Linked DNA regions of Homo sapiens: all the other regions are reported to be linked to region 3. Evidence: microRNA targets listed by miRTarBase, many of them from high-throughput screens and not tested one by one. Region 3 holds a microRNA gene; each other region holds the end of a gene's coding sequence.
Evidence for each region. The annotated mature microRNA hsa-miR-6500-3p reads ACACUUGUUGGGAUGACCUGC and lies in region 3 at 4,451-4,471, opposite strand. An mRNA with a match to its seed (bases 2 to 7 or 8) in the 3' UTR can be bound and repressed. Matches are read on the target gene's strand: a 7mer-m8 pairs with bases 2 to 8, a 7mer-A1 pairs with bases 2 to 7 and ends in A, and an 8mer does both.

Region 1: the mRNA of BAMBI is a reported target of hsa-miR-6500-3p. The part of its 3' UTR that is shown has no 7-base or 8-base seed match.
Region 2: the mRNA of RNF125 is a reported target of hsa-miR-6500-3p. Seed matches in the 3' UTR shown: 7mer-A1 at 3,052-3,058, 7mer-A1 at 4,014-4,020, 7mer-m8 at 4,055-4,061 and 7mer-A1 at 4,148-4,154.

The regions. Positions count from the first base shown.
Region 1 is chr10:28,681,650-28,688,583 of GRCh38, forward strand. It overlaps BAMBI (BMP and activin membrane bound inhibitor), which reads left to right. Exons shown (of 3, transcript NM_012342.3): 3 at 334-1,283. The coding sequence ends at 752. Among named protein-coding and RNA genes, the nearest start is that of BAMBI, 7.6 kb to the left of the region's middle. RefSeq lists an enhancer at 2,226-3,134.
Region 2 is chr18:32,067,220-32,074,513 of GRCh38, forward strand. It overlaps RNF125 (ring finger protein 125), which reads left to right. Exons shown (of 6, transcript NM_017831.4): 6 at 1,079-6,000. The coding sequence ends at 1,165. Among named protein-coding and RNA genes, the nearest start is that of RNF138, 21 kb to the right of the region's middle.
Region 3 is chr1:51,057,249-51,064,542 of GRCh38, reverse strand. MIR6500 (microRNA 6500) reads right to left here and starts at 4,525; the gene lies at 4,440-4,525. MIR4421 (microRNA 4421) reads right to left here and starts at 4,706; the gene lies at 4,638-4,706.

The sequences.
Region 1 (6,934 bases), not on the chromosome of region 3:
GACACCAGAGGGAGAAGCCTGGCTGGATGCAAAGATGCATCTTGATTGAGTGGCTTTTATGTCTGAGCATTAGATGTCTGTCTACATAATAGGTTTTGCCTGTTTTTTCAACATTTTGAAGACATTAAAAGGCCATTACATCTCAGTAATGACAGTCTGTAAACAAATGCGTTTGTAAGCTTCTTCAGATAGTTTTGCAATGTTTTCTAAATATCGTTGATTTAATTGTAAGCTTCTTTTTAATGGAATTCTTGGTTAAAATGAATTGATGATTATGAATATCCCTAGGAGGAGTTAGCATGGAGTTTGATCATTTTCTTTGTACTCCTTTAGGACAAGGAAACAGGTATCAGCATGATGGTAGCAGAAACCTTATCACCAAGGTGCAGGAGCTGACTTCTTCCAAAGAGTTGTGGTTCCGGGCAGCGGTCATTGCCGTGCCCATTGCTGGAGGGCTGATTTTAGTGTTGCTTATTATGTTGGCCCTGAGGATGCTTCGAAGTGAAAATAAGAGGCTGCAGGATCAGCGGCAACAGATGCTCTCCCGTTTGCACTACAGCTTTCACGGACACCATTCCAAAAAGGGGCAGGTTGCAAAGTTAGACTTGGAATGCATGGTGCCGGTCAGTGGGCACGAGAACTGCTGTCTGACCTGTGATAAAATGAGACAAGCAGACCTCAGCAACGATAAGATCCTCTCGCTTGTTCACTGGGGCATGTACAGTGGGCACGGGAAGCTGGAATTCGTATGACGGAGTCTTATCTGAACTACACTTACTGAACAGCTTGAAGGCCTTTTGAGTTCTGCTGGACAGGAGCACTTTATCTGAAGACAAACTCATTTAATCATCTTTGAGAGACAAAATGACCTCTGCAAACAGAATCTTGGATATTTCTTCTGAAGGATTATTTGCACAGACTTAAATACAGTTAAATGTGTTATTTGCTTTTAAAATTATAAAAAGCAAAGAGAAGACTTTGTACACACTGTCACCAGGGTTATTTGCATCCAAGGGAGCTGGAATTGAGTACCTAAATAAACAAAAATGTGCCCTATGTAAGCTTCTACATCTTGATTTATTGTAAAGATTTAAAAGAAATATATATATTTTGTCTGAAATTTAATAGTGTCTTTCATAAATTTAACTGGGAAACGTGAGACAGTACATGTTAATTATACAAATGGCCATTTGCTGTTAATAATTTGTTCTCAACTCTAGGATGTGGCTTGGTTTTTTTTTTTCTCTTTTCTTTTTTAAACAAGACCAAGATCTTGCTTATTCTTCCATGTGCCTGTGTAATTTTCTTACAGTGTGGAGTTTCTAAATGTATACTGACCATCTTTTAGTGTCTTACCCACATTCTGGCTATAGGATAACTCTGGTTTTAGCTTTCATCTAAGAAGGAGATCTGGAATTTATGTGTACCAGGTCAGATATGATTGATCAATTTCTGGAGTTGACCTAGCAAAGGTCATTTTGATCCAGGTGTTCCGGAATACCTTTTCCAATGTGTATACCTCCACCCAAAAAAGAAAAAAAAACCAACTAAACAACTGTTTTTTTGTTCAAGTCAGTCACTGTCTCCTTTTACTGTTGATTAATTGGCCAGTTTATTTTGTCCTAAGCCAAATTAAGTATTTTGGCTCCCCAATTAGCCAAACCTTACTGTACAACACACTTAATTTTAAACCTTGTGCTTCAACAGTGTGATGCTTTTTTTTTTTTTAATACTTAGAAAGCTTTTCTGTAGTGAACACGATACACCAATTGATTTAAATAACTGCTACTAGGTTTCATCCTCCCAAATGATCCTTTATGTAACCAAATAGAACATTGGCTTTAGCCAGTAACTAATACAGCTAGGAAACAATGTTTCCTCTTATAAGACTTTTTGTCCTGATAACATTGCCCATCCTGAATTTAAACGTATGCTTTATTTGTGTACTTCCCGTGCCCCCAGTGGATCTTTCTTATTTTAAATGTGAGAATATTATGCCATGGAGGGTATCTTCTGAATTCCTTTGTATATGTGAAATTTTTGCTTAAAAGTTAACCCGTAGGCCGGGCGCGGTGGCTCACACCTGTAATCCTAGCACTTTGGGAGGCCGAGGCAGGTGGATCACAAGGTAAGGAGTTCAAGACCAGCCTGGCCAACATAGTGAAACCCTGTCTCTACTAAAAATGCAAAAATTAGCTGGGCGTGGTGGCGTGCATCTGTAGTCCCAGCTACTCGGGAGGCTGAGGCAGGAGAATTGCTTGAACCCAGGAGGCAGAGGTTGTAAGCTGAGATTGTGCCACTGCACTCCAGCCTGGGCAACAGAGGGAGACTCCATCTCAAAAAAAAAAAATTACAGCCTGCATATTCGAGTATGGGGTTTTCTTTTATTAATATTAATAGACCACCTGCCCCAAAAAACTAAGCTGTGGAATAAACACATATTAATAAATGATAGCATTCGTACTGTCCCTTTTAAGATGAGCAGCTCTTGCATGCATGCCTTATATTTTATAAAAGATGTTAAGCTTTATGTATGTCAGTTTTTGAGGAAGCCAAAGAATTGTTGAACCCAACCCTTCAAACCTGTCAAGGGAATTGATCAAAGTTGTCTGTTGGTGAAATTTCCACCCTCACCTCCACCTCTGGCTCTTTGAGTCTCACTCTGTCGCCCGGGCTGGAGTCCGGTGGCGCCATATGTATCACTACAACCTCCACCCCACTCGCCACACACCACACGTGGTGCACACCACCCTGCCCCCTGCCCCGCCGCGGGTTCAAGCGATTCTCCTGCCTCAGCCTCTGAAGCAGCTGGGATTACAGCCACCCACCACCATGCCTGGCTAATTTCTGTATTTTTAGTAGAGACAGGGTTTTCACCATGTTGGCCAGGCTGGTCCCAAACTCCTGACCTCAAGTGATCCTCCTGCCTCAGCCTCCTAAAGTGCTGGGATTAAGGTGTGAGCCACTCTGCCCAACCCCACTCTGGCTCTTGATCACATTATAGTAGATTGTAGTTTAGAGATGAAAGGACTTCTTGCTCCTTGTACATTCTCATTTCATGTACGACATTATGCAAGCTCAGCAATTCTTCAAGTGGCCAGTTTTTATATCTGTTACGTAGTCAGAGTTTCTTTTCTCTGCTTGCCCTGATGAGGGCCGGTTCACCTCATTTTTTCCAAGTACAGGTTAACCAGGAACTCTGCAATTCTTTAGGAAATAAAACAATGAAGGATTTAAAGTCATGTGCTTTGAAACACTTTGAAATCAGTGAACCCCTTCCTCCCAGAGAGGCCTATGTCTGGACTGGTGTTACCACAAACTTCATGGAGGATGCATGCAGCCTCTCCACTTGATCTTGGGCCTTTGTTCTTCCTATTGTATATTCACGAGGCTATTTACAGCTCCCTGTACTGTGGGGAGGTGGCACTGTGCCCATGGCCTCTCAGTTTTCTGGGGCTCCGCTTCTAGCCACATAATAGGCCAGCCCTGCCTCTTTTCCTAAAAAAATCCTCTCTCTTGATATTCATTTAGTTTTTACACGTGTCCTCACCACCAATCTGAAAGTCAGATCCGCCTTCTTATGAAAATACTGCAGGCACCTCAACTTTGGATGTAACTAAGAACTACATATAGATTTTACTTTTGCTTCCCTGTGAGAGTGCAGAAGTTGCCAGGAGCCAGAGATTAAGGACTAAGATAAGGTCCAGGGTCTACCTGATTCAGTGATGTCAGAAGTGGTGGTGACTGGTTTATTTGTTTTTCCGTCTTAGAGATGTTTACTGTTACTCTGAGGTGTCACAAGGCCAGGCTAACCAGGAACAACCCTTGCTTAATATTGTCATAGAACTCCCCCCAAAAGGAATTTTCCTTTCTGAGTGGAAATTTGCCCAAACTAGAGACATGGGACCAAATTTGCCAAGATGATTTTCTATCTACAACTCCTTACATTCTACCACTGTTGAAAAAATTGATCTGTGCATGGTTATGTCTTTTATGTTATTTTTTTTTCCTTTTATTTTGAATGGCTTAGAGGCTTCCTAGAAATTGACTGGTGTGTCTCTAATTTCTGCTGAACTGATTTTATTAAAAACACTACACCGTAGGGGGTTTGACCTTATAAAATACCAAACATGTCTGCTTTAGAAAATCACAAAGCTTTCCTCTGAAGAGCTCATAAATCTGGTTTCAATATGGGTTGATTATAGGCTAAAAGCTTGAAAGCAGTGGCATCTAGTATCATGACTAGGGAACTGGCTCTTTTGGGGCCGGGATAGCTTTTTTTTTCCCTTACAGCCTCTAATTGGTCCTCTTCTCTGCCTCTCAGCTCAAATGTCTTTAAACCTCCACAGCTGTGCGAACTTCGGCAAATTATGTAAGCTCTTTGAATATTCACTTTTGTTGCCTGTGGTTGCCTGTGGAATGGGGGCCGTAGTAACACCTTGTAGGATTATTGTGAAGAGACATTGTAGCTATTTTCATTCATATACACAACATTCTTGCATAAACTGTGCCCACATAATATTCCTTAAAATCTGAGAACTTGTGCCCATTATTTGTACCGTACATTAATATTGCTTTTTAATATTTAAGATCTTTGCATACTTGAGACTTGCCAGTCACCTGCAGACTGGATATGGCATTTTAAATATTCATTTTCAATTTATTATTTTTGGCCTCTCATGCCTATTAAATAGGTTCATTTGTAATTGTTTCCTTCTGGAATAATACAGATGGCTACTGATGAGAATGTTTTAATCATATAAACTTACTTGAGTTTCTAGTATTTGATAGAATGAAGTTCCCTTGGAGTTTCAGCTGCTCCGAATGGTCAAACCATTGAGAAAATCAATGGATTTGATAGGTAGCAGATAATGTGTCCATATTGTTTGCGTGGCTTATGTCTGATTGGTTCATTCTCAACAATTGATTCTCAATGCCACAATCGATTACAGCCTGCCCCACGGGTGCTCCCAACAAAATACAAATACTTCTAGAACTAGTTTTTAGAACTTTGTGAATTTGGAAGTGGAGGAGTGAGTTAAAAATCATTTAATTACCCTGGATGAAATTAATTTAGTTACTCTGTGGGTCACAGTTATAATAGAAAAATTAAATGCTCCAGATACCAACATTTATAATAGAAAAATTAAATGCTCCAGATACCAACATTTATAATAGAAAAATTGACTGCTCCAGATCCCAACTGACTCCCCTTCCCTCTACCCAATTCATCCTGTCAATATGACTCTATCTGCTGCCTCAAAAAAAGCAGATCATTGATTTTTTTGGGGAATTAGAGATCCCATAGAATGACGAAATTCAACTCTCAAATTTTGGCAACTCTTTATTTGGAGTACATTTTACACTCTGAACATGTCCTTGTTAATCTGCTAACACTGCACTGTTTTGCAGCGTGGTGGTGTAATTCATTTGTCTGCCATTCCAGGAATTTGAGGATAGAATCAGGAAGGTGGCAGAGCTGAGATTAACCAGTTGGGGATTTACTTCTTCCAGCAAGGCAGCAATTTTCCAAGGGATGTGCTTTTTTAGAATTTCAGAGTATTTATTGCTAGGGAAGACCTATCAGCCAAACTTCTGCAAACTTTTCCCATTCTTTGAATATGAAAAGGGTAACAGGAAAGGCATTGATAAGCAATCTGGGGAGATAACTTGGGTAAGCAGTGAGATAATATCTCAAGGCATTTGTCATTCCTCAAGACTTTTAGGAAATTCATTCTATCTAGGAGCTAATGGCCCGCTGACCTCTCAGGGGCAATTTCAAATGGTGTTTAGCTCCCTGTATCTTGCAGATTAGATTGATGTTGGACTAAATCTGAATAGAACTCAGGAAAGATCAGCTGAAAACTATGCATGCTGTGTGTGTGTGTGTGTGTGTGTGTGTATGCCATGCTAATTGAATAGACTTCGTAATCCTGGAATAACTTTACATTTAACAATTTTCAAGGCATTGCATAAGTACATTTGGAACTTGCAAGAAGTCAGCAATTTGTTTTTAGACACATGAAGACTAAGTTGTGATGAATTAATAAACTCAGAGGCTGTTGTGTCAATTCACTCTGAAAGATCTCACATTACAAACCTAATGGAACAAAAATTGTTTTAGCAGTTAAAACCAAGAGAAATACAAAAAGCTCTTTATCCCCGGTTTCTTCCCCTTGGAATTTCCCTAGGGAACCGATGAGGACAGTGGAAAAACACCACACTTCTCAAAGCAAGTTTCTTACTTTTTAAGTGTTACAAGTTCACGGTGGAGTGTTTTTTTCCCCCTAAATTTAGTGGATGTGGTTTTGATACCATAGCTTTAATTCACAGTTGCCTTGGTAAATGAGGGCCTTTCTCACCTGGATTTGGGGATTAAACTGTGAACTCCCCGTGGGCAGGAGCTGTGATCAATAACCTTTGTACATTTCCAAAATCCAAAGGAGAGAATTAGATGAAGGACAGATTAAGACCTTTTGTTTTCAGGCACCTGTTTCTGGTTTTTAGTAAATAAATGTTGTCTTTCTCTTTCATTTCTCTATCCTAACTGATTGCTTTACAGATTTATAATTTTTGTCTGGAGAGCCTAAAGGAAAACAAATTGCTAGTGAAGGAAGTTGAGAAAAAATTCCAATGGGCCTGAACATTAACGAAACATTGCTAAGGTCAAATATCTGAGTCTACCTTTTATATTTGGTGCAGGCTCTAAGCTCATTTAAGGACTAATTCTCACCCAGAAGTGTATCACTATTCTCCTTTGAACTAAGAGTTGTACTTTCATTTTAGTATTTAAAGATAATCCAAAATTTCCACCATTGTCTCTCCAAGGAGTTAAGAACAAGCCACTGAGAGTTTTGTTGATCAAAAATGTTGAGAACCTGGAATACGCTACCTGATTTAGTATTTCATCCTCAATGGCTTGACAGGCCCTGCT
Region 2 (7,294 bases), not on the chromosome of region 3:
TCCAGCCTGGGTGACAGAGCGAGACTCCGTCTCAAGAGGTTTCTCTTTACCTTAGCTCTATGAGGTGTTCTAAAAGCCAGGTCGATTCTATGGCTGTTCTGTCTAATCATGCTCAGTCTGTTCTCAAGATCTTTCAGACAAAGCATGATCCAGAGCTAGGCAGGATGAAGCCACTTTGATAGGAATACTTTCCAGCCACTCACAGCCATATTCTTGGGTAGGGAAGTGAACTGGAAGTAGTGTTCTTTGTTTTGATTTTTTGCTTCCTGAGCTACTATATACTAAGCTAAGCACTATATGTATATATCACATTTTATTCCTTGTAGCAACTTCCGTGAAGTGAATACTGTATTTTTATCTTCATTTAACTGAAATATCTGAAGCTCAAAGGTTAACTGAATTATCTAAGAACAAGCCAGTATCAAGACCAAACCTTGTGTTCTGCTGTACTTTATGACTTTCCTTTGGATTTTGTGGGGGTTTTTTTGTTTTGTTTTTATATTGCAGAATGGACTTTGAATAGAGATTTCACCTTTTGTTATTGCGGAAGAGGAGAGGGATTGCAGAGGATAGGGTTCTTAATGGTTTTTGTTTTACTTATAGAATGTGCTGACATAGAATTTTGAATTCCACTTTGACACATAGGAGGCAAGGAGAAAGTTTTGTTTTTAACATTTTCTTCAGAAGTAGCCATTCAGTGGTACTGCTGGCATTGGTGAAGCCTGTGGGGGAGCCTGAACTTTGCTCCATTTTACAGGTTTATGTGGAACATAGCACTCTGACCAGGATTTGTAATGGTGACTAAAAACTTCTCATTATATCAGATAAAAACTTCAAATTTCAAATCAAGACTGTTTATTATGACAGTAACTAGTTAATCGATAGACAACAAAGTGAAGTAGAAAATTCATTAGCCCCAAAGCAAAAGTCCTGGGTTCTATGACAGGCTTTGTGGAACCTTGGACAAGTCTCGTAACTTTAGTTCCCTACAAAATGAGGGTGTTGCATTGACCCTCATCCTCTAGTTTCTGAAATACTATTGACTCTGAATATTTCTAATTATTTTTCTTTATTGTAGGATTTTAATATAATTGAGGAAGCTCTTATCCGAAGAGTCTTAGACCGGTCACTTCTTGAATATGTGAATCACTCGAACACCACATAATTTTATTAAAACGAAGGGAAAAGGGACCACTGAATTGCACCATTTAAGATGCTGCTTGAACAAATGGGAGGGAAGTTGTCAATGATTGATGGGCAAAAATGTACAACACAGTTATGTGTTTGTCCATGTTTATTGTTATAGTGCATTTAAAAACTGCTTTAATTTTAATGGTTTAAATCTGTTTTACATCCTTGAGATTCTTACACATCTAACAACAAAAAAAATTATCTACATCAGTCATTGTTACATGGAAAAGACAGGTGGTAGGCAAGTAGGTGGAGGATCTCGGTTTGCAAATTAGATAATACTCTGTGTATAATGCTACATATCAATAACTACCATCATGGTTAGGCACGATAACTAATCTTTGTTCTGTGTAAAAAAATATGGAGAGTGAAACAAAGTGCAGACATTCAAAGAAATAAGAAATCTGCTCCAATGCTCTTGTTCTAATCTCTAATAGGTTAACGTTAATAATCTTGTATGGGAGTTGGAAAGGAAAATTTTGGAAGTCAAGAAAGTCCATTTAGGCCGGACGCGGTGGCTTACGCTTGTAATCCCAGCACTTTGGGAGGCTGAAGCAGGCGGATCACAAGGTCAGGAGTTCGAGACCAGCCTGGCCAACACTGGTCTCTGTGAAACTCCGTCTCTACTAAAAATACAAAAATTAGCTGGACGTGTTGGCGGGCATCTGTAATACCAGCTACTTGGGAGGCTGAGGCAGAAGAATCACTTGAACCCGGGAGGCAGAGGTTACAGTGAGCTGAGATCGCACCAGTACACTCCAGCCTGGGTAACAGAGCTAGACTCCATCTCAAAAAAAAAAAAAAAAAAAATCCATTTAACCAAATTGTCTTACATAATACTGTAACAAAACAAATTTTGTGTTAGAAAAGTATACTTAATTCTTTGACTTTTTATAACTGCATACATAAGAATTCAATATTTTTCAAATATTTATAGCTTATTTAGAAATATTTCTATAATATAAGCAATTTCTTAAAAACCATCAGATGATACTTACAGTATAAGTATTCACATCCAGACTTTTTAGTAGAAAACCCTAAGGGCTTTGATATCTTTTTTGATTGTAACATTTTAAAAATTATGAAATAAAAGTACTGAAAACCAGACACAAAATTTATAGCTGAATGCCTTATTATAAGGAAATACTCTTTTAGGACTCAGCCAGTCACCCCACGTGTCCTTTTTGTGTCCTGTCACAATTACAACCCCACAAAAGTAACTGCTAGACTGATTTAAATGGTAATCACTTTGTTGCATTTGATTACTGCTGCCACACCTAAATGCATATATCTATATTTTAATATTATCAATTTAAAGTTGTTATTAAATGTATATTTTATTTTACATCTCTTTTTTAATCTAGAAGTTCCTCCTTCTTTCCAGTTCCTTAAAATTTACCTGGTGAAGAACCTGATCCTAGGACCTATAGAGTTTCCCATACTTTGTATTTTGCTGATTGCACACTCATGGCACGGTTCAGCACATTGCCCTGTCCTCTCGATATTAGCACACAGTGCAGGTTCAGGCACATTGAATTTGAGAAGACTTAGGTTCAGTCCTTTGGCAAGACTGTAAATCACGGTGTCTTTCTTTCCTTCCTCCTTCTTCTCTCTCTCTCTCTCTCTCTCTTTCCTTTTCTTTCTCTTTTTTTCAGAGTTGCACTCTGTTGCCCAGGCTGGAGTACAGTGGCACGATCTCGACTCACTGCAACCTCCATCTCCCGGGTTCAAGCAGTTCTCCTGTTTCAGCCTCCCAAGTAGCTGGGACTACAGGTGCACGCCACCATGCCCGGCTAATTTTTGTATTTTTAGTAGAGGGGTTTCACCATAATGGTCAGGCTGGTCTTGAACTCCTGAACTCAAGTGATCCACCAGCCTTGGCCTCCCAAAATGCTGGGATTACAGGCATGAGCCACCATGCCCAGCTAATTTTTGTATTTTTAGTAGAGACAGGGTTTCACCATAATAGCCAGGCTGGTCTCAAACTCCTTACCTTGTGATCCGCCCACCTCAGCCTTCCAAAGTGCTGGGATTATAGGCGTGAGCCACTGTGCCCGGCCTACAGGGTTTTTATCTAACCTTTCTGTTACAACTGTACCTCTCCTTCTGTACTGAAAGTCCTGGTTTTCAAGAACACAGGGCACGATAGAATTAGAACATCCCACAATTACTCATTTCTTTTATTTATCTTACACTTACAGCTGTCTCAGAATAACAATAGAAATACAACCACAAATAATATGGCAATTGAAACAATTAAAAAGTTTTCATTTGCTTTTCTCATTCTTTCCCAATTTTTTTTTTTTTTTGAGATGGAGTCTCGCGCTCTTGTTGCCCAGGCTGGAGTGCAATGGCACGATCTCGGCTCACTGCAACCTCTGCCTCCTGGATTCAAGCAATTCTCCTGCCTCAGCTTCCCGAGTAGCTGGGATTATAGGCATGCGCCACCACGCCCTGCTAATTTTGTATTTTTAGTAGAGTCAGGATTTCTCCACATTGGTCAGGCTGGCCTCAAACTCTCGACCTCAGGTGATCCGCCTGCCTCGGCCTCCCAAAGTGCTGGGATTACAGGTGTGAGCCACTGCGCCCGACATCCCAATTTTTAAAATAGTTATACTATGTCAACATTTTCAGAACATACTGGTATAGCATACTGTACTTTCTTCCTTTTATCCCCCATTTATTCTTAGTTCTTCAACTATATATTTAACACTTGCCCCCAGTTTTGTTTTGTTTTGTTTTGAGGAGGAATCTTGCTCTGTTGCCCAGGCTGGAGTGCAGTGGTGTGATCTTGGCTCACTGCAACCTCCGCCTCCCGGGTTCAAGTGATTCTCCTGCCTCAGCCTCTCGAGTAGCTGGGATTACAAGTGGGCACCACCACACCCGGCTAATTGTTGTATTTTTAGTAGAGATGGGTTTTGCCATGTTGGCCAGGCTGGTTTTGAACTCCTGACCTCAAGTGATCCACCTGTGTTGGCCTCCTAAAGTACTGGGATTACAGGTGTGTGCCACCGCGCCAGGCAATTGCCCCCAGTTTTTATTTGATGGCTCTGACTGTTTCTCATATCTGACTCTTTAATTATGAATCCAGGGCATAGATTAGTATCTCCATCTTGTAAGGATGCAAAGAAGCCATGAAAATAAGTAATATCAACTCCTGAGGATAAAACGTTACTTGACTAGAGTTAGCTTTTTAATTGTAATCATTTATAAACTTCTTTGTTCCTTACATATAAGCATAGTCATAACCATGGTACCCAAAATTTTCTATAAGTTATTGTAACTCCTTAAAGGTCTTGCTACAGTTCTTTTATCCAGTACAAATAATTGGGAAAATGTAAAGCTGAATGAAATCTAGTGAGCCTCATATCCTCCCTTTTAGATATTGATTTTAAGTTTGCTTTTCACAGCTGCTAAAAAGTAACAACTGATTTTTAGTTCCACAACCTCTCTTTCTTCAATTTAGATGGATCATACAATAAAGCAAAATCTGGCTGGTTACAGTGGCTCACACCTATAATCCCAGCACTTTGGGAGGCTGAGGTGGAGGGTCTCATGAGCCCAGGAGTTCAAGACCAACCTGGGCAATATAGTGAGACTCTTTCTATTTAAACAAAAACAAAAACAAACAAACAAACAAACAAAAAGCTGGGCATGATGCACACCTTTAGTTTCAGCTACTAAGGAGGCTGAGGTTGGAGGATCACTTGAGCCTAGGAGGTCAACACTGCAGTGAGCTATGATCATGCTACTGCCCTCCAGCCTGGGCAACAGAGCAAGACCCTGTCTCCAAAAACATAAATAATTAAATATAAATAAAAATAAAGCAAAATCTGTTGGGAAACGAGAAAAAGGAGAGGAATTTTTCAGGAATAATCATAAAAAGAAATGATCATCAGACTGAAAGTCCAGAGCCTGAGAAATGAAAACATATTTTTAAGCATTGGTGTTGACCATGCAGACAAACTTTTGTTAATTCAGAGCGATACAAAAGGCACTTTGAATCTATAAAACTTGAAAAAGTTAAAAATTGTATGTCGGATAAAGCTTTAAGTCATCTGTCACTATTAACCTCAGTGCAGCAATTCTGACTCCTGTGCCTGGATTCCTTTTATGATAATTTTGCCACCTACAGGACAGATTAGGTGCTGGTCGCCTGAATTATTTTGTGTTCTGAATTATTTTGAGCTCTAAAATGGTAAAGTACAAATACTCATTGTTTTACTGTGCCTTTGGCCTTTTATAAAAAGGTATTTATAATTCGTTGATAAAAACCAATATTTGAAGCTGTTGATTACCAACAAAAAAGTTTCACTCTCTTTATAGTGCTTCAGGATACAACTTTTTCAGGGCCTTATTAGAGAAAAACTGATTCACATGTTATTCTTCTAAAGCTAAATTATTAAAATGTAGGTTGAAAGATTGGATTGATTGTGAATCTACACTAAAGATATGGTTCCAGGCAGACCTCCTTAGAGACCTCCAGGCAGACCTCCTTACTGTCTTCAGTGATGTTTAATTTCATTACTGTTACTGGGTGCCAAGTGTCTTTCATTTGGAAGTGAACTTACTCCAGTTATTGAATGTTTATCATATCATAATTTGCATTTTTCCAACATTGAAGGTATTTTAAAAAGTCACTAAGAGATTCATTCTTTTATTATTCAACTACAAAAAAATAGTGTAATGATCAGAATTTAAAATGTGTGATTCTTTTTCTTCTGTAAGTATGTATTGCTATGATAAATAAAAAATGGCAGGACCATTGTTTTTATTAAAATATCTACTGTGTCTATTCTTAAACATTAATCTTGATTACTATTTTACTCAAATTTAATAATGCTTTTTAAATTTTCATCATTGAGCAACATCTATCACAAAGGTGTACATTCATTTAGGCCAGTACTTCTCAACTGGGGGTAATTTTGTCTCCCAGCAGACATTGGCAATGTCTAGATACATTTTGGGTTGTCCTAACAGGGCTTGGGTGTGCTAGTGGCCTGAGATCTAGATACAGGTCAGGGATGCTGTTCAGCATTCTACAGTGCACAAGACAGCCCCTTGCAACAAAGAATTATCCTGCGCAAAATGGCAATAGTGCCTAGGCTTAGAAACTCTGATTTGGTCAACATAATACTGAGCACTATGGATTTATTATTTGTTCTGCTAGCAAGAGGCTTCACTGAAATTTAAAAGGTAAGATGTAGATAGATTCTTCCCCCTGCTAAATCCATACTAAGTTTTGAATGGCTGTAGCTGTCATGCGTACCCATATGTCATGAGCATATTAATTTTTTGATTTTTTGCAAGAACACATACAGGACAGAACACAAGTGTTACTGACGAAACCTCTGATGCCTGTTTGCTGAGTGACGTTCTAGATGATTGAGGGAACCCAGATCAGTTGAGAAGATTTACCTTCATCATTTAGATTATCTTTATTGAAATAAGACAAAATATTACAGAGGGACACTCATGTCTGAGATCCTTGAAGCTAATAGTTATGTTTTTGTATTATTACTAGAAAATCGTGTGGTATTTTAATCCTAAAGATTTCAGCAAAGACAATGCATGGATCTTAAGGCTAATCATTGCCACCAAAATAGCCATGTAAGAAGCCCAACGAAGGAGAATCACAGGGAGTAGTATTGATCTAGGTGAACTGGATTATGGTACAATTACAAGTCCCAAATCCCAGTGCTCACCCAAAGTCTACTGTGGTTCCTGGCTCTTCTCCAGGGAAGCTGTTCTCCAGCTTCAGAATTCCAGGGTACTTTCATCTCATGGCATTTGTATATCACTGTGTGTTCCTATATCACCCCTCGCAACAGGCTGCTGAGTTGGCTACACAGGTAATTTCTGTTCATTATTTGCCAATGCAAGTCACATGGCCATATGTAATGTCAAGGCACTGAGGAAATCCAGTCTTCTCATGTAGAAGACAACTGGATACTGAGGCATAATAGTAATACCAACCATGAAGGTACAAGCCAGGCAGAGTTGACAAGACAGGAAGTACACAGGGTAAAGACATTAAAAATATGTGTGGAAAGGAGGGGTGAAAAGTCAAAATGAGACTAGCTTTCTAAAACATGAAGTCATG
Region 3 (7,294 bases):
GTTTTTGTTCTATGTGTGTGTGTGTATGTGTGTGTGTGTGTGTGTCTCTGTGTCCATGTATCTAACTATATACAGTTGACCCTTGAACACTATGGGGATTAGGGACACTGACCCCATGCAGTTGAAATCCACATATAACTTTTTTTTTTAAGAGACGGGGTCTTGCTCTGTCGCTGAGGAAACTGGAGTGCAGTGCATGATCACGGCTCACTGCAGCCTTGACCTCCCAGGCTCAAGTGATCCTCCTACGTCAGCCTCCCGAGTAGCTGGGATCACAGACGTATACCACCACACCTGGCTAATTTTTGTATTTTTTGTACAGATAGGGTCCAGCCATGTTGCCCAGGCTGGTCTTGAACTTCTGGACTCAAGCAATCTGCCCACCCCAGCCTCCCAAAGTGCTGGGATAATAGGCATGAGCCACTGTGCCTGGCCACATATAAGTTTTGACACTCTAAAAACTTAACCAGTAGTAGCTTTTGACCTGATTTGACACTCTAAAAACCACTAATAGCTTTTGACCTGAACCCTTATCGATGACATAGTCAATTAACACATATTTTGTGTTACATGTATTATATACTGTATAGTAATTAAGCAAGCTAGAGAAAAGAAAATGTTATTAAGAAAATAATAAGGAAGATAAAAAGTATTCACTATTCATTAGGTGGAAGTGTATCGTTAGAAAGGTCTCTATCCTACTCACATTGGGTATGCTAAAGAGGTGGGGTTGGTCTTGTTGCAGGGATGGCAGAGGTGGAAGAAGATCTGTGTATAAGTGGATCTGCACAGCTCAAACCCATGTTGTTCAAGGCTTACATGCACACACACACACACACACATATATATACACACATGTATGTATGTATGTATGAATATTAGGCTGCTTATGGTGGTAATAACATTTGGGACAAACAAGAATGTGACTGAAGAACTTGAAATCTGGGGAATGAGATGTCCATATGGAGGCTTTGAAAAGCTTTGACATTTACCTGGAAATTCTGAAGGCTACTCACATACATAGGACTGTGGACATGCCTGAGCTATGGGCATGGTCAGAAAAGACTTGAGAAGGCCCTAAGCTCTTACCTCTGACTGACCTTGAGTCTGCACAAGGAGGAATTTACAGCTAAAGCAGAGATGTGAACTACCTGCCTGAGTGTTAAAGGTTTGCCACAATGTGCCCACAGGAACTCTTAGCAAAGCCTGGGAGACTTATGGAGACTTATTTGTTCTAGACATTTGAGGAAATTTCTGCAATTCTTAGCTGATGACTAAGCAAACTGAGCAGATACTTCAGTGACCACACTTGAAAAAGGATAGAGACTTTATAGAATTAGTCCAGGAAAGTTACTAAGAAACAGCAACAACAACAAACAAAACAAATAAACAACCAGCAATATTAATAAACCCTGGGATGGGAGAGAGTCTGATTTCCATAGTTGTTACATTATATTATGTAAAATGACTATTTTCAACAGGAAATTATGAGACTCAAAGTAGGGCCCATATATTGGGAAAAAAAAAGCAGTTAATAGAAACTGTCCCTCAGAAAGCCTTGATGCTAAACTTACAAGGCCAAGTTGTTAAATCAGCGATATTAAATGTTTGAAGAACTAAAGGAAACTATGTATAAAGAACCAAAGGAAAGTATGAAAATGATATAAAACTTAAGAGAGAATATCAATAAAGAGATAGACATTTAAATAATTTCTTTTTAAATAAAACAACCAAATAGAAATTCTAGAGTCAAAAAGTACTGAAACAAAAAAATTCACTAGAGGGTTTCAAGAGCATATTTGAAAAAGAATCAGTGAACCTGAAGATAAACCAATTGAGAAAATCTGGTCTGAGAAAGAGAAAGAAAAAAAGATTAACAAAGATGAAGAGAACCTTGCAGATCTATAGGATACCATCAAGCATGCCAATCTATGCATAATGGTAGTCTCGGAAGAGAGAAAAAGGAGCAAAAAATATGCTTGACAAAATAATGGCCAAAAACTGCCAGCGTTTGATGAAAAACATTAATCTATACATCAAAGAAACTCAACAGACTCCAAGTATAGTTGACCCTTGAACAACATGGGTTTGAGCTGTTCAGGTCCACTTATATGGAACTTTTACTCACCTCTGCCATCCCTGAGATGGCAAGACCAACCCCTCTTTTTCCTTCTCCTCTTTAGCCTACTCAATGTGAAAACAGAGGGGATGAATTCCTTTCTGATTACCCACTTAATGAATAGTAAATATATTTTCCTTATTATTTTCTTTTCTCTGGCTGGCTTAATGGTAAAAATACAGTATATGATACTTATAACATTAAAAAAAGTGTTAATCAGCTGTTTATGTTGTCAGTAACATTCTGGCCAATAGTAGACTATTGGTAGTTAAGTTTTTGGGAAGTCAAAAGTTGTATGTGGATTTTTTTTCTACCCTCTTCTCACAGGTATGTATATGTGGATGTTTGACTAGTGGGGTCGGCACCCCAACCCCTCATGTTGTTCAAGGTTATACTGTAGTATAAATGCAAAGAGATGCACACCTATACACAACATAACCAACTGGAAAACCAAGGGCACAGAGAGTATATTGAAAGCAGAAAGACAGAAGCAGCTCATCATCTCTGAGGTATTCTTGATAAGATTAACAGCCAAATTCTTTCCAGTAACTTTATGAATATAAACTATTGTTATGAATATAGACTATCAGAATGATTCCAGCTCCATATAAAAATATTTATGGACCATGACAAAGTGGAATTTATTCCATGAATACAGGCTCAGCATACATTATCATATATCATATTAATAGAATAATGGACAAAAGCCAAACAGTCATGTCATAGATATGAAAAAGCACTTGAGAAAATTCAACACACTTTAATGATTAAAAAAACAAACAAGAAACCTGGAATAGAAGGAAACTTCCTCAGCCTGATAAAGGGCATCTATGAAAACACACTGCTAATGTCACTTTGTGGTGAAAGGCTTGAAAAAATTATCCCATCTTAGTCTGTGTTACTATTAATATAAAGGCATACCTGAGGCTGGGTAATTCATGAAGAAAAGAGGTTCATTTGTCTCACGGTTCTGCAGGCTGCACAAGAATCATGGCATTGGCATCTGCTTCTAGTGAAGGCTCCAGGCTGATTCCACTTATGGCAGAAAGTGAAGAGGAGCTGGTATATGCATATCATATGGTGAGAGAGGAAGCAAGAGAGAGACTAGAGGAGGTACCAGGCTTTTTTCAACAACCAGTTCTTGTGGGAACTAAAAGTAAGAACTCACTCTCGTGAGAATGGTACAGAGCTATTCATGAAGGATCCACCCCCACAACCCAAACACTCCTACCAGGCCCCATCTTTAACACTGGGGATCAGATTTCAACATGAGACTTGGCAGGGCCAAACAAATCATATTCAAACCATAGTACCACCTAAGATCAGGAATAAGACAAGGACGTTCACTCTTACCATTTATATTCAGTGTTGTACCAAGGGCTGCATACCCATCAGTCAGAATCCTTGTGTCATGGCATCCTCCAGGTGTCACTTTTCCAGTTGGAAACCTCTGTGGCCAGTGGTGCCTTTGCCAGAGTTTTGCTCAAGCCTGCTGGGCTTGTTCCACCCACTCGGCCTGGCAGGCTGCACTCAGCTCATGCTACTGGCCTGGCTCCCACACCTTCAAAGAATGATCCAGGCATGGAGAGGAGAGGGGTGCACAAGTAAGCAAGCATGGGGTCTGGCTGCTGCACACAGCCAAGCATTGGCTGCTGTGGTGGGGTGGGCAGTTCCAGGTGCCACCACAGGTGCTGGCTCTGTTCAAGCCTGTGGCTGGATCAGATGCACTATAAGTGGCTTCTGCTCTGGGCACTCACATCTGGACAAGGGGAACATGGTGGCACTTGGAAGCTCCAAGACACTAGAAACCACAGAGCCCCAAAGAGGGTGTCACAGCCCTGGCTGGGGGAGCCTGTGCATCTGAGCTCCCTGAAGGGCTGCAGCTCTTCTCTCCTTCTCATTGCCTGCAGTGTGACGAGTGGGGTGGAGGCAGGTGTTTTAGCTCTGTTTGTGTTATAGCACTTTCAGTCCCACCATTCAACAGGTCCTGAATTTTTGTCCTGTGTCCAGGAAGAATGAGGTATGCAGAAAACTGGAGGGTGAGCAAGGCAGAAAGGAACTTTCTTGAGCAAAAGAGTGACAGAACAGCTCTTGGGAGACCTGGAGTTGGTAGCTCCTTTCCACAGGCAGGTCATCCCAACTAGTTCAGCCCTCAGTAGAGAGGAGCCCCAGATTGGGTAGCTCCATTTCACAGGCAGGTCATCCTGACAAGTGTCCAGCTCTCTGGGGAGAGGAGACCTGGAGTGGGTAGCTCCTTTCCATAGGCAGTTAGTCCTGACGAGTGCATCCCTCAGCAGAGAGGAGACCAGAGTGGGCAGCTCCTACCTGCAGGCAGGTCATCCCAACAAGTGTCCAGCTCTCAGAAGAAAGGACACCTGGAGTGGATAGCTCCTTTCTGCAGGCAGGTAGTCCTGACGAGTGCAGCCCTCAGCAGAGAAGAGACCCAGAGAAGGTAGCTCCTAGCTGCAGGCAGGTTGTCCAGATGAGTGTCCAGCTCTCAGGGGAGAGGAAACCCAGAGTAGGTAGCTCCTTTCCACAGACAGGTTGTCCCAACAAGTGTTCAACTCTCAGCAGAAAGGAGACCCAGAGTGAGTAGCTCTTTTCCACAGGCAGGTCATACTGACAAGTAGAGGAGACCTGAAGTGGGTAGCTCCTTCCTGCAGCTGGTAGTCCTGACATCTGTATGAGTCTAGCTAGGTAACATAGTTTTTATGGGCTCAGAAAGGAAGAAGTGTGTTCTGATTGGCCCATGGGTGGCCATGGGCGGGCCTGGAAAAAGCACCATAAGTTCTCACTCCAGGCCGCAGACTCCACCTGGAGCTGACAGCCCAGCCCCCAGGCTTCATGCCATCCATGGCTTGAAGGTTGCGTTTCACTGGGAACCTGCCCCTTTCTGCCCAGGAGCCTGTCTGCCTCCTGTCACCATCAACATGTTGTCCATGCCGCCCAGGCTGTTCATGCTGAGGTTTGCCTACAGGCCCACACTGAGCCACCCTGAGCAACCCCTTGGTCTCCCTCTTGTGCTCTTCAGTTCCCAAAGTCTGGATGGCCTGAGACAGCAGGGGGCTGGCATGTCAGCACTGCCCTGAGTGCTTGGGTACCCAGCTGGGTCACAACAGTGCCTGGGCTCTGCCACAACTTTGCTCTGCCCCAGAGTGGGGGCCAGGAGCAGGGAGAGGCCAGGCAGTGGGAGCAGGCACTTTCAAGCCTACGGGAACAAAGGGCTTCCGGGGCCCCTGAGACCTCAGGGATGCCTGGGTCTGTGGCTACAGCTGAGAAGCTGCAGCTGTGCCTGGGAGCATGTGGCTCCTGCTCCACTGACTTGTTAGGGGGTGGGGCTCCCACCTGTTCCCGGCACCCGTGGGCTCAGCAGAGTGTGCAGCCCCAGTTGTGCTTCCCCTGCTGAAGCCGGCATCTTCACAGTGGCTACTCCAGACAGGCCACTGCTGCCATCACTTGCACCAACCTGTAGGTGACAGTCTTCCTCCATGAAGCCAGTTCATATGCTCTAGAAGTTACTCCTCCATGAAATATGCAAAGAAACAGCCCAAGGCTACAAGAAATACGCACACACGAAATCAAAGAAACAGGACACCACCAAAGGAACACAATAATTTTCCAATAACCAACCCCAAAGAAATGGATATCTATAAATTGCCTTCCAAACAATTAGAAATAATTGTTTTTAAAGAAGTTCAGCATGCAATAGGAGAACACAGTTGGACAACTCAGTGAAAACAGAAAAAGAGTCTACGGCCATACCACCTCGAACATGTCTGATTTCATCTGAAAACAGAGAAAGAATACATGAACAATACAAGAAGTTCAACAGGAAGGTAGAACTTATAAAAAAGAACCAGGCTGGGAGTGGTGGCTCACACCTGTAATCCTAGCACTTTGGGAGGCCAAGGTAGGCGGATTGCCTGAGCTCAGGAGTTTGAGACCAGCCTGGGCAACACAGTGAAACCCCATATCTACTAAAATACAAAAAATTAGCTGGGCATGGTGGTGTGCACCTGTAATCCCAGCTACTCAGGAGACTGAGACAGGAGAATCACTTGAACCTGGGAGGCAGAGGTTGCAGTGAGCTGAGGTCATGCCACTGCACTCCAGCCTGGGTGACAGAATGAGACTCCAACTCAAAAAAAGAAAAAAAAAAAAAAAAGAAAAAGAAAGAAATTCTGGAACCAAAAAACCTAATGACTGATATTAAAAACACAATAGAGAACTTCAAAAATAGACTTTATTGAGCAGAAGAAAGAATTTGTGCCCTTGAAGACAGGTTATTTGAAATTATCCAGTCAGAGGAGAAAAAAGAATGAAAAAGAGTGAAGAAAATTTATAGGACTTATGGGACACCATCAAGCAAACCAATATGTGCATAATGAGAGTACTAGAAGAAGAAAAGCAAGAGAAAGAGGTAAAAAGCTTTTTTAAAGAAATAATGGGTTAGGTGCAGTGGCTCATGCCTGTAATCCCAGCACTTTGGGAGGTCGAGGCAGGTGGATCACCTGAGGTCAGGAGTTAAAGACCAGCTTGGCCAACATGGTGAAACCTTGTCTCTACTTAAACTACAAAAATTAGCCAGGTGTGGTGGCAGGTGCCTGTAATTCCAGCTACTCGGGAGGCTGAGGCAGGAGAATGACTTGAACTTGGGAGGCAGACGTTGCAATGAACTGAGATTGTGCCACTGTACTCCAGCCTGGGTGACAGAGCAAGACTACTTCTCAAAAAATTATAATAATAATAATGATAATAAAATAAAATAAAGAAGTAATGGCTGAAAACTTCTCAAATTTTGAGAGGGAAATGGATATCCAGATTCATGAAGCTTACAGGTTTTCAAAGAGGATCAATTCAAGACTATACCAAGGTACATTTTAATCAAATTGTCTAAAATAAAGGACACTGAAAGAATTTTAAAGCTGCAAGAGAAAAGTAATGCATCACATATAGGGAATCACCATAAGACTATCAGTGGCTTTCTCATCAGAAACCTTGCATGCCGAAGAGAATGGGATGATATATTGAAAGAACTGGAAAAAAAAAACTACTTACCGTGAATCTACATCTGGCAAGATTATCCTTTAAAAATGAAGGGGAGATGAATTCTTCCTTAGACAAACAAAAACAAAGGGAGTCTGTCACTACTAGCCCAGCCGTAAAAGAAATGTT